Regions from separate parts of the Homo sapiens genome. Here region 1 is linked to region 2. The links come from fine-mapping of genetic effects on gene expression. Tissue or cell type: blood mononuclear cells. Region 2 holds a variant in brackets; the other region holds the start of a gene. All regions are shown on one strand. Distances are between the middles of the regions.

Region 1 (2,680 bases), 64 kb before region 2:
CCCAGCACTTTGGGAGGCCGAGGCAGGTGGATCACCTTAGGTCAGGAGTTCGAGACAAACCTTGCCAACATGATGAAACCCCGTCTCTACTAAAAATACAAACATTAGCTGGGCGTGGTGGTGTGTGCCTGTAGTCCCGGCTACTTGGGAGGCTGAGGCAGGAGAATCACTTGAACCCGGAGGCGAAGGTTGCAGTGAGCCGAGATCAAGCCGCTGCACTCCAGCTCTGGGCAACAGAGCAAGACTCTGCCTCGAAAAAAATAAATAAATAAGAAAGATGATCTCAGGGTCCCTACCCTAGGAGTCAGATGCACGGTGGGGCCATTCCTAGCGCTGCCTGCCCTGGACAGCGCCTGTCTATGCCTGTGGCCCAGCATCATTATGAGGAGTGCTCCCTTGACTCTGGCTGTCCTGATTTGGACACTAGACTTCATGGTCACCCTGGCCACAGGTACCCTATCCTGCATCCTGAGCTCCGCTCTTCCTGGAGTCATGGGCTGGTCTTTCCTCCTGGTGGCCTTGCGCCCCAGCTCCAGCTTCCTGACTTTTCTCTTCTGGAAATGGGAATGCCAAGTCCTATTTCATGGAGTTTTGAGAATGAAATGACTGGTGTACGGTGCAAAGTGCCTGTGAGTGCCCAAGAAATCTCTTTTATTAACAAGACACGAATTCATTCCAATTGATTTGACGGGCCACTGTTGTCACAGCAGCCGCACTGCCCCAAAGGCAGCAGTGATGTTTGAGCGCCGACTCCCCGACGGCACTTGGTCCTCACAACCACCCCATGGAGTTCATGCTAAGATCCTCGCATTTCATTTGTGTGGCAGGGACTTGCTGAGGTCCGGGGAGGGGCAGAGAGGAGGGGTGCGGCCGCCCCGCGCTTTGCACTTTCCGCGTCCTCCAGCAGAGGGGTCGGCCGGCGGGCTCAGCGTCCCGCATAATAGCCGCTTTGAAGCCCGCGGAGCGGGTGGCGGGAGGGGAGGGGAGAGGCGGGAGGGGAGGGGAGAGGCGGGAGGGGAGGGGCGAGGCGGGAGGGAGGGAGGGAGGGGCCGGCAGCGGAGGGAGGGGTGTGTCGGCCGCCCGCGCCGTTCCTCCGCCCCTCGGTCCCGCGGCCACACGCAGCTAGCCGGAGCCCGGACCAGGCGCCTGTGCCTCCTCCTCGTCCCTCGCCGCGTCCGCGAAGCCTGGAGCCGGCGGGAGCCCCGCGCTCGCCATGTCGGGCGAGCTCAGCAACAGGTTCCAAGGTAGGCGCCGCCGTCCCCGAGCAGCCACCTGTGCGCGCCGGGCGGACCGCGGGGTCCACCGCGCGCGGGAAGCGGGCGGGGACGGGGGCGCGTGGCCCGAAGAGGACCCCGCTTCCCAGGCCGCCTCTTTGTCTCCTCCAGGAGGGAAGGCGTTCGGCTTGCTCAAAGCCCGGCAGGAGAGGAGGCTGGCCGAGATCAACCGGGTAAGCCCCGCGCCCAGGGCAGCACGCGAGTCCCGAGCCGCGCGCTGCGCGGGTGCCACCTCTCCTTCCGCGAGGCCGTGCCCGCCTCCAGATCTACCCTCTTCCTTCCCTTCCCCTGGGCTTCCCTCAGGTGCCTCCCTCCGCCCCCAGCCCCGTCGCCTCCGACTCCAGGTAGGTCCGCCTCCGCCTCCCGCCTCCGGTCTCGGGTTGCAAGTTGTTACTCTTGCAACTGGGGACTGGGGAGGTGGGGCCGGGTCAGGAGCTCGGATGCCAGCCGGCTCGTGGCTCCCCGCAAGCCCGCTTGGGAGCAGCCCAAGGATTTGGCGCGGGAAGGGCCCTAGGCCAGTGATCTCTCCAGCTCAGAACACAGGCTCCGGGTCATTTGCTGGTCTGTCGCCCAGGCTGGAGTTCGGTGGCCCAATCTCAGCTCATTGCAGCCTCCACCTTTGGGATTCAAACGGTCCTCCCTCCTCATCCTCCCGAGTAGCTGGGACTACAGGCATGTGCCCCCACGCCTGGCCTTAGCTATTGTTGTTATAAGGGATTCAAAAGTACAAATAGAAGACTCTGATGGGCGTAGAGATCCTGGCACTTCCCCGTGGTCTCCAGCCTCCCGCCTCCCTCAAACACACCACTCCTCTTCACTCCAACTTTCAGGAAAGATTGCCTTAAGGGATTCAATGCTTTTCTTGCTGGTCCTGGTGGATTTCTCAAAAGAAATCTTTCCTGTTGTTGCCAGGCATCCAGTGAGAGCTCCATAAATTTACATAGATTCTAGAAGATAAGGAAAGATATCAGGACCTGTCTGGGTTGGCCAAAGCTCAAAGGCAGCACAGCCAGTGGCTTTAAAGTTCTGCAAGACCTGGGCTCAGATCTGGCCTCCACTGTGTGCCAGCTCTGTGGTCCTCAGCAAAGGGCCTCTCATCTCCAAGCAGGGCATTGTGCAGGCTCAGAGAGGGAAGGCCCGTGGCCTGCATGGCCCAGCACCCAGCATTCAGGAAGCACTCACAGAACTAGCATTATTTCCTGAGGTGGATGTCTCCCAGTTTCCTTCTTAACTGGTGGCAGAGGCACGCCCGCTGAAACAAGGCTTGGCATTCCCCCTGCAGGCTCCTCTGGTCCCCTGGACACCCAGGGTCTAAGCCCAGCTGACAGTCTGGAAGTGGGCCGCTGGTGAGGTCAGCAGAGCCCGAGAAGGCTGTGGGAGGCGGGTCCGAGCCTGGGGCCAGGTTG
Region 2 (2,680 bases):
GAGACGGGGTTTTACCATGTTGGCCAGGCTGATCTTGAGCTCCTGACCTCAAGTGATCTGCTTGCCTCAGCCTCCCAAAGTGAGGAGCCACCACTCCTGGCCAATTTTGTTTTTCATTTTAATTATAAAGTTTTTTTATGTAACTTTTTTATTTGTATACATTATTAGAGACAGAGTCTTGCTGTGTTGCCCAGGCTGATCTTTAACTCCTGGCTTCAAGCAGTCCTCCTGCCTTGGCCTCCCAGGGTGTTGGGATTATAGGCCTGAGCCACTACACCCGGCCTCATTTTAATTATATAGTTTTAAAAATCGTATTAAAACCTATTCTGTTTTCCTTGTTCATTATGGTTCTTAATATAGAAGTATTTTAGAATTCTTTTGACTGTTTTGATACATCTTCCCCCAAACTATCAGAAAAACAAGTTATTTGCCTTTTAATTTTTTTCTTATAGGAAATTCGGCGCCTTCATCAGTATGTGAAATTTGCTGTCCAAGATGTGAATGATGTTCTAGACTTGGAGTGGGATCAGCATCTGGAACAAAAGAAAAAACAAAGGTGAATGAGATCTCTCATCTGCAATGTGTTGGAATAGATATTGCTATTGCCATTTTAAAAAGGTTATTTAGGAACATATGAAAATCCCAGGCCGGGTGCGGTGGCTCACGCCTGTAATCCCAGCACTTTGGCAGGCCGAGGCGAGTGGATCACCTGAGATCGGGAGTTCGAGACCAGCCTGACCAACATGGAGAAACCCTGTCTCTACCAAAAACACAAAATTAGCCGGGCATGGTGGCACATGCCTATAATCCCAGCTACTATGGAGGCTGAGGCAGGAGAATCGCTTGAACCCAGGAGGCGGAGGTTGCAGTGAGCTGAGATCGTGCCACTGCCCTCCAGCCTGGGCAACAAGAGCGAAATTCCCATCTCAAAAAAAAAAAAACAAGAAAGAGAAAATCTCTACAAAACGTTCATTCTTTTTAACAGTCATTCTACTTGAAATATTTTTCTATAGAAACAACAAATGATACTCAGTAATTTACATAAAATAATTTATATTGCAGTATAATTTATGATAGTGAAAAATTGGATTCAGCCTAATTATCTAAAGGTACAGGAGTGGCTAAATAAATATGGTCGCTTTTTTTCTTAACTACAGAATACCCTGTAACCATTGACTAGCATGTTCTCCAATAAATTATTTAATATATTGAATACATATTCTATGTTCTACAAAATGTATGAATATATAACTATTTCGCTATAATTATTAGATGTAATATAAAAATTTAATAAGTAAAAAGACAAAAGCATATTGGCTAATAAGAATGTGGAGGTACAAAAGTAAATAGATGTAACAAAATATTCGTAGTTATATCTGCAAAACGGGATTAAGGAGAATTTTC[C/T]GTAATACTCTTCTGTATATTTCAAATTTTCTTTTTTAGAAAACATTTGTAATTAGTGTGGATAATTAAAAAGATGAGAGAAATGATGGCAAAGTAATGGGAAAACCTTTTAGCATAGTTTTTTATCCCTAGATATTTGGTTTTAAGCCACATATTTTCCACAAGGAGTAGAATGTCATGCACCATGAGAGCATGAAGTGCCCATTAGAAATTTGAAAAATGAATCAGCCATGAAATGTTAGATTTCTGAAACACCTACACTTGATTAATGATTAGCTAGCCCTGTATGAAAACAAACCAAGAAATGGTCTATTTGATGTACTTTTCAGTGGGACAACCTGGGTGTGATATCAGGGACAGGACTATAATATGCTTATAATTTAGTAAGCACAATTCAATAAATTACATTGTGTTATGTGGAGAAAGGCTAAAAATCCCAACTGGAGGACCCTCAGCTTGCAGCATAGATAGGTATAGGGAGATAGAAGTGAGAAGCTCTCCTCCGCCACTATCTAAGGGGAGAATTCTGTGGCCTGTGGACTGGAGCACTTGTCTCCATGGGCAGTGGGGCCCCATTAGAGAACTAGCTCACACACCTGGTTCTGATTCATGTTTAACCATATGGTTTGCTTTCCCACAAGGGAAACAATGGTCTAACCTTACAGTGGGTACATTCTGCTCTGCTCAATGGTTGTATTTCTTTTTGGTAATTAACAAGTTAGCCTTGTAAGAAAGTGCATGATGCTTAAAGAGAAGCCAAGCTTTTTTTTCCTTTGTAACAATTCTGTGGATTTACTACTTATGCTTTTCTGAGTTCTCTTTCTGCAGAGTTCAAATTCTTAAATCTGTACAATTTTCTATTTTGATAGCACTTCTCTGTTTCAGGGCCATCCCTGAATATTACCTTGAACCCTATTGAAATGCCTTTTTTTTTTTTTTTTGAGACTAAGTCTCGCTGTGTCACCCATATTGGAGTGCAGTGGCGCGATCTCGGCTCACTGCAACCTCCGCCTCCGGGGTTCAGGCGATTCTCCTGCCTCAGCCTCCTTGAGTAGCTGGGATTACAGGTGCGTGCCACCACACCTGGCTAATTTTTGTATTTTTAGTAGAGATGGGGTTTCACCATGTTGGTTAGGCTGGTCTCCAACTCCTGACCTCGTGATCCACCCACCTCGCCCTCCCAGAGTGCTGGGATTACAGGCGTGAGCCACCGCGCCTGGCCTGAAATGCCTTTTAAAAATTATATGTTGAACTACCTTGTTACCAGAGGCAGTCA

What was found. PIP is the estimated chance that this variant, and not a neighbour inherited with it, causes the effect.
Region 1: AIF1L starts here. The variant in region 2 is fine-mapped to the expression of AIF1L in blood mononuclear cells (TOPMed, PIP above 0.99).

Annotation. Positions count from the first base shown.
Region 1 is chr9:131,095,417-131,098,096 of GRCh38, forward strand. AIF1L (allograft inflammatory factor 1 like) reads left to right here and starts at 1,115. Exons shown (of 6, transcript NM_031426.4): 1 at 1,115-1,244; 2 at 1,386-1,447. The coding sequence starts at 1,214. RefSeq lists an enhancer at 1,452-1,951.
Region 2 is chr9:131,158,931-131,161,610 of GRCh38, forward strand. NUP214 (nucleoporin 214) reads left to right here. Exons shown (of 36, transcript NM_005085.4): 18 at 453-556. Among named protein-coding and RNA genes, the nearest start is that of NUP214, 35 kb to the left of the region's middle. The variant C/T (reference allele first, on the strand shown) is at 1,405.